Homo sapiens: one gene and its partner. The protein of the gene in region 2 purifies or fractionates together with the protein of the main gene of each other region. This does not show direct contact. Each region holds a gene or a part of one and is shown on either strand. Other genes may lie near its edges.

Region 1 (3,500 bases), on a different chromosome or scaffold from region 2:
AATACAAAAAATTAGCCAGGGGTGGTGGCAGGCGCCTGTAATCCCAGTGAGGCTGAGACAGGAGAATCCCTTGAACCCGGGAGGCGGAGGTTGCAGTGAGCCAAGATCGCACTATTGCACTTCAGCCCAGACAACAGTACAAGACTCCAACTCAAAAAAAAAAAAAAAAAAAAAAAAAAACCCTGTATATACCACATTAGATGAGAGCTAATGAATGAATACTAGAAAACTATACAGAGTAGATTATAAGAGACTTTTGAAAATAATGACACTGTTCTTTTTTTTTTTGGAGACAGAGTCTTGCTCTGTTACCCAGGCTTTTTTTTTTTTTTTTTTTGGAGACGTAATCTCATTCTGTCACCCAAGCTGGAGCACAGTGGTGCAATCTCAGCTCACACCAACCTCCACCTCCCAGGTTCAAGCAATTCTCCTACCTCAGCCTCCCTAGTAACTGGGACTACAGGTGCCCGCCACCACGCCTGGCTAATTTTGTATTTTTTAGTAGAGAACATGTTGGCCAGGCTGGTCTCCAACTCCCGACCTCAGGTGATCCCACCCACCTCGGCCTCCCAAAGCACTGGGATTACAGACTTACAGACGTGAGCCACCATGCCCGGCAACACTGTTCTCTTAAGGGTAAAACAGACTAAAGTAATTCAAAATTGTACAATGAAAAATACAAACTGCCTAACAAATAACTTCATAGGAAACAAAATAATAAAGGAAATATGCATCAAGGTTTTAACAATATATCTTTTGCGGAAAAGAATAATAGGGCAGGGCATGGTGGCTCACACCTGTAATCTCAGCACTGCAGGAGGCCAAGGCAGGCGGATCACCTAAGGTCAGGAGTTCGGGACCAGCCTGGCCAATATGGCGAAACCCCGTCTCTACTAAAAATACAAAAATTAGCAGGGAGTGGTGGTCAGCTACTCGGGAAGCTGAGGCAGGAGAATCACTTGAACCCAGAGGCGGAGGCTGCCGTGAGCTGAGATCACGCCACTACACTGCAGTATGGGTGACAGAGGGAGACTCCGTCTCAAAAAAATAAAATTAAATAAAATAAAAATAAAAGAATAATAGGAACTAGGCTTCCTAAAGATTGTACTTTTATTTTAAAAATTAAGACATTTCCATTTAACACTTTTGAAGTATCAAAACACTTCAAAAAGTTCTGGAGATACAAAGATAAATAAAATACCTTATTGTACATCTATATAAGTATTATAAAACAAAAATGCATTGTGGACATTTCTGTTTCAACCATATAAAAACTATTTTAAAATATTTTCAAGAATATGTGTGTGAAAAGGGATGCTTTATAAAAAGTGAATATAATAGATTAGTTCAACTAGGTCAGTATGAGAAATAAAAAGCTTACTTAGTTTTTCTATTAATTCACAAACAGGAAAAAAAAATCTGATTTTCCAGTTCCCAAATGATTTCTCAGTTTAAAATAAATCAATTCAAAGGTCAACAAAACTGTATGCTTGCAGGAACCTAAATTATCAAGTCTGTCACTTCCAGGAAACTTTGAAGTTTTAAAATTTCACCAATTCACCCAAATTTCTTGTAATTATCATTAATATTAATATATAACCAATAATATCTACTCATGATAGCTAGTAAAATCCCAGCTTGCTTTTTTACAAAAATTGATACGCTGATCCTAAAATTCACATGGAAATGCAAAGGGCCCAGAATAGCCAAAACTGTCTTGAAAAGGAAGAATAAAGAGGTCTTCCCTATTTTAAAACTCGCCACAAATCTTCAGTAAACAAAAGGCAATTTGGTACTGGTTTAAGAATAGACACATAGATAAATGGAAAAGAATTGAGTCCAGATAAATCCTTACATTTATGCTCAACTGATTTTTGACAAAAGTGCCAAGGTAATTCAATGGGAAAAGAATAGCCTTTCAACAAATGGCACTCTAGCCGGGTGCAGTGGCTCACGCCTGTAATCCCAGCACCTTGGGAGGCCGAGGCGGACGGACCACAAGGTCAGGAGATGGAGACCATCCTGGCAAACACAGTGAAACCCTGTCTCTACTAAAAAATACAAAATAAAACTAGCCAGGCCTGGTGGCAGGCACCTATAGTCCCAGCTACTTGGGAGGCTGAGGCAGGAGAATAGTGTGAACCCGGGAGGCGGAGCTTTCAGTGAGCGGAGATCGCGCCACTGCACTCCAGCCTGGGCGACAGAGCGAGACTCTGTCTCAAAAAAAAAAAAACAAAAAAAAAAATGGCACTCTTAACAATTGGATATCCACATACAAAATAATGAATGTAGGCCGGGCGCGGTGTCTCACATCTGTAATCCCTGCACTTTGAGAGGCCGAGATAGGCGGATCACGAGGTCAGGAGATCGAGACCATCCTGGCTAACACGGTGAAACCACGTGTCTACTAAAAATACAAAAAATTAGCCAGGCGTGGTGGCGGGCGCCTGTAGTCCCAGCTCCTTGGGAGGCTGAGGCAGGAGAATGGCATGAACCAAAGAGGCGGAGCTTGCAGTGAGCCGAGATCGCACCACTGCACTCCAGCTTGGGCCACAGAGCAAGACTCCATCTCAAAAAAAAAAAAAAAAAGAATGTAGACCTTTCCCTTACCCTTATCTCACACCATACAAAAATTGACTTAAAATGAATCATAGGCCTAAATTTAGCAGCTAAAACTATAAAGTAATGAACACAGGATGTAAATGCTTTAAAATTAGATTGTGGTAATAGGTGCAAAACTCTTTAAATTTACTAAAAATCATTGACTTGTATACTTAAAATGAGAAGTTTTTTTCTTTTTTTTTTTTCTTTTTGAGACAGAGTTTCATTCTTGTTGCCCAGGCTGGAGTGCAGTGGTGTGATTTCTGCTCACTACAACCTCCGCCTCCCGGGTTCAAGCAATTCTCCTGCCTCAGCCTCCCAAGCAGCTGGGATTACAGGCATGCGCCACCACACCTGGCTAATTTTTGTATTTTTAGTAGAGACCAGGTTTATCCATGTTGGTCAGGCTGGTCTCAAACTCCAGACCTCAGGTGATCCACCTGCCTCAGCCTCTCAAAGTGCTGTGATTACAGGCATGAGCCACCGCACCCAGCCTAAAATTAGTGGTTTTTATGGCATGTAAAATACAGTTGTCCCTTGCTATACTGGGGACATTGGTTCCAGGACTCCTGCATAGACCAAAATCTGAGCATACTCAGATAAGTCCTGCAATGGCCCTGTGGAACCCAGTGATATAAAAAGTAAGCCCTTAGTATGCAACAGTTTCACATCCCAGGAATACTGTATTTTCAATTCGAGTTTGGTTGAAAAAAAAAATCACCATATAAATGGACCCATGCAGTTCAAACTCATGTTATTCAAGAGTCAACTGCATATCTCAATGAAGGTTTAAAAAAGCCACCTCTAGGCTGGGCGCAGTGGCTCACGCCTGTAATCCGAGCACTTTGGGAGGCTGAGGCAGGCGGATCACGAGGTCAGGAGTTCAAGAACAGTCTAGC
Region 2 (4,082 bases):
CACAAAATCTTACTTAATATGTTAATAAAGAAGCACATATATTACTATTCTACTCATAAATGTTTTTTTATTTGGTAATTATGTATTTCAATATAATTGGCTGTTTTTGTAATCTTATATATTTTATTTTATGCATTTAAAAACTTTATGCCAAGAAAGGGGCCAGAGACCTCAGCTGACTGCCAAAAGCCAAAGGTGTCTGTGACATTAAAAAAAGTTAAGCACTCCTAGCTCAGTTCTCATTTTTGATATTTGTTAACTGATCACATGGATTTAAAGAAATTGAATACTAGGTGTAGATCGAGGTATACATTCAATGTGAAATCCTTCAAACTCTTGGAATTATTGTATGCACCACTCTTGGAGATAAGTATCCATTTCATTAAATGGAAGAATAATACAAAGTCCATAAAAATAGTTAATGTGTTACTATCATTTCACATAGTAGTAGCAATAATATTACATATAGTTTTAAATCTTCTACTATGTCCCTGCCGATTTTGATTGTTAAAATCACCCTCAAGATAATACTGTTACTTCTGTATTCTCATTTAATTGTCACATCTTTAAAGGGAACAAGCAGACCAGATTACATCCATGTTCCAGATGAGAAAACTGAGGTTCAGGAAAGCTGGAGGCCCCACAGTTGATCAGTGTAAAAAAAAAAAAAAAAAAAATATTTTAATCTCCACTTAACAAATGAGAAAACAATCTCTGAGAGATTAGGGAGGTTGCAGTAAGTGTCAGGGCTTGGATTTACATCTCATTTGGCCGGATTCAAAAACCTTGTGTATTTTGCACTGTGTCACGCGGCCTGCCTCACAACTCCTTTCTACAGATTATAAAGCTAAAGGATTGCTAGAAATGACACCCTGGTGTGCCTCTCCCCACCCCAAGAAAATTGTACTCAGTTGAATCACAGGGTGTACCCCAGGGAGAGGAAGATAACGCATTTCCAAAACTTTAGCACAGCTCAGTCCACTCGACAGCCCCAAGAGAGGGGGCGTGTCTTTGGGATATTAGCACTGCTTTCTCCTTCAGGCCCTGCCCACCTAGTCACTGGTGAGTCCAAAGCCTTCCCCCTCGCTCTGTCGAATCTCACGTACACAGCCCTTCCCAGATCGGGATGTGTGTTCTGAATCAAGTAATTCGCTATGGCATGCAAATCATTATATCATATAGATGTGTTTTTCAAAATCTGATTAATGGTCAGTGCTTGTATATCTTATTTCCCATTTATGGGAGGTAAACTTTATTCACCTGTGTGATTTTGAGAGGCAGAGAAGCATTTTCTCCTCACTTTTCATTCTTTTTGCTTTCTAATTTGCTATTAAGCTGTTGCATATCACAAACTAAGAGCATGATTGCTAATTCCATTAGAAGAGCAGATAGTAGTGGGAATCCTTGACCTCTTAAAAAGTGCCAGGCTTTCTGGGCACGGTGGCTCATGCCTGTTCCGAGCACTTTGGGAGGCCAAGGCGGGTGGATCACCTGAGGTCAGGAGTTCGAGGCCAGCCTGGCCAACATGGTGAAACCCTGTCTCTACTAAAAATACAAAAATTAGCTGGACATGTTGGCACGCGCCTGTAATCCCAGCCACTTGGGAGGCTGAGGCAGGAGAATCGCTTGAACCAGGGGTTGGGGGAGTGGGGAGGAGGTTGCAGTGAGCCAAGATCTCACCATTGTACTCCAGCTGGGCAACAAGAGCGAAACTTCGTCTCAAAAAAAAGTTCCAGGCTTTGGAGGGCTTGGGAAATTGTCCACGGAGTGTCCTCAAACTGCGAGCCCTCGTATGGTAGTACAGGCTCATCCTAACTACCCTACTTTTTTCTGGAAGCTGTCATTTTGGTCATTGTGGTAATACCATATTTAATCTGTTTCAACTCCAGCGAGATTTATAGTCTCTGATGTTGCTTTTGATTCTTCTCATGTGTTGCCTGCTTATTTGCAAACTGGTCTTCTTAATCCATGCTTAAACTCTGCATATCAATTAGTCTTTCTTTAACTATAATAATGAAACTGTCACAAACTCATGCATATTTAAACCTATTTTTTAAACTCATTTGCTTATCAGATCTATTTTAAGAGCATGGTCATATTCAGTTTTGCCTTCTGTCCCAAATCCTCACTCTCCTGTAACAGTCTCCATTTAAATGTTTACAAAGGATTTGTCCTTTTATATATTTTGCACATTATTTTGGTACTCCAGAGATAAAACCTAAAAGCAACAATACACTCTGCAAATTTGGTTTCACTTCCAAACAATATGATTGCCTCCCCCACCTCACACACACCAAAAAAGCTTTATCCCAGTCAACTTTCTTAAATATCTAGGCAAATATTATTGAACTATTAATACTTTCACTTGAAATGTATTACAAGGTATTAAATGTATTGTGTGTTACCTTATATAACACTGTAGTCTCCTTTAATTAACAGGTAGAGAGTTAACAGTAAAGTTAAATGTTGAACATCTGCAAGAAGAAGAGTTGAATTTACAGTTTTCTTTGTCATAGTGGCTTAAGAAAGATTTGAGAGAACAACGGAAGTATAATACTTTCCTTCCTCTCTTTTGTCTTTTCAGGCACTTCCACAACTTACAGAATCTTAGTTTGGCTTATTGCAGACGGTTCACAGACAAAGGCTTACAGTACCTGAACTTGGGGAATGGATGCCACAAGCTCATCTATCTGGACCTCTCTGGCTGCACCCAGGTTTGTCTTTCAGTCTTCTCTTTGCTGCGGTGTGTGAGGAAGTTCTCCAGAGAATGGGCTGCATTCAGCCCTCACGTTATACTAATGCTGTGCACGGACCGCAGCACACTTTTCAGAGGTTTTAAATTACATGGCCCCAGCTGCTGAAATTTTCCCCAGGATCGCTATTATAGGCTCTTGGCTTCCTTCCACTGGAGTGTCACACAGACAAACAGGCAGAGCTCATTGGATGAGGAAACGGACCACTTTTGTGGAGACAGTCTGAGCACAAGTCTAAAGCAGAGTCCAAGTCCTGAAAACTCTGGAGTTGCTACCAAGACACAAACAAAGAGAATGTTTTGAGGGAGAATTTTGCATGGGATTCCTGAAAAGTCAATTAACTCCCACATGGGTTTTTTTTTGGGGGGGGGGGGGTAAAATGCTATAAGTGATAAATAGGAAAAGAAAATACAACAAAAACTCATAATTTAAAAAATTGCATTACACCGTTGGGCTGAATAACATGAAGATTTGAGATCTGCGTGGGAAAATATTTTAAGTTTGAGGGAACAGGACTTGGAAAGTTGGGCAGAAAATTGGATCAAGTTGCAGAGGATAGGGCATGGCGCTTTGGATGTAGCTACTGCCTCATTGATAGTTTCTTCTGCTTTAATTTCAAAAGATTTAAGCCATAATTCTTTTAACTTATTTTCTTCTGCCTCTCTGTGTATTTTATTAATTTGGTGTCATAGTATGTTCATTATTCTATGAGAATAATAGCATAGGTGAGAACTGGCTGAAATATTGATAGTTATCATTTCTTGAGTCATTACCATATGCCAAGCATTGTGTTGAGTGCTATACACAGATCAGATTTACTTCTGATACAGTGCTGTGGTGGTATGTATTTACTATGCTTATTTACAAATGAAGAGACCAAGGCTCAGGGTGGTTGAATAAGTTGCCCAAGTTTGCACAGCTGATGAAAGCACATGGTACTAGTACAGTTTTAAGCATCTGTTGCTAGATACTGGGGCAGGCAGAGTTCCCTGGGATAGTGGGAAATACAGGGGCAGCATGGGTTTCTCCCCCAGGGTTCTTGAATGGATAGAATTCTTACCTAGTCACCTCCACTGACATCTTGTGGTATCCTGATGCCCTGGGTGGTCTGGAGGGAGTTGGGGCAAGGAGGGGAGGATTCTAAGTTAGGGCTGTAAACATCTAACATTCATATTTGTTTAAAACTGATCTGCTGATGTGTAGCTTTTTAAACATCAACATCTACCATAACTTTATGACTGAGATGGCATTGACGTTCTCCTCAGCATGACTGAATTTTAGACCAGCTTCTTACTGACTCTAGGCCCTGACTTCTTGTTTTCTTGTTTC

The links. The genes of interacting proteins can lie anywhere in the genome.
Region 1: the proteins of LRRC17 (region 2) and LRBA purify together in Homo sapiens (affinity purification with mass spectrometry; one large-scale study listed by BioGRID and IntAct). This does not show direct contact.

The regions. Positions count from the first base shown.
Region 1 is NC_000004.12:151,005,285-151,008,784, forward strand, and holds part of LRBA (lipopolysaccharide-responsive and beige-like anchor protein), read right to left. Parts: intron 1-3,500. UniProt on the Homo sapiens protein: Involved in coupling signal transduction and vesicle trafficking to enable polarized secretion and/or membrane deposition of immune effector molecules. Involved in phagophore growth during mitophagy by regulating ATG9A trafficking to mitochondria.
Region 2 is NC_000007.14:102,911,718-102,915,799, reverse strand, and holds the start of LRRC17 (leucine-rich repeat-containing protein 17 isoform 1 precursor), read right to left. Parts: upstream 2,801-4,082; 5' UTR 2,715-2,800; coding exon of another isoform or gene 2,585-2,714; exon of another isoform or gene 2,406-2,584; intron 1-2,405. Other genes in the region: FBXL13 (F-box and leucine-rich repeat protein 13), read left to right, coding at 2,585-2,714. UniProt on the Homo sapiens protein: Involved in bone homeostasis. Acts as a negative regulator of RANKL-induced osteoclast precursor differentiation from bone marrow precursors.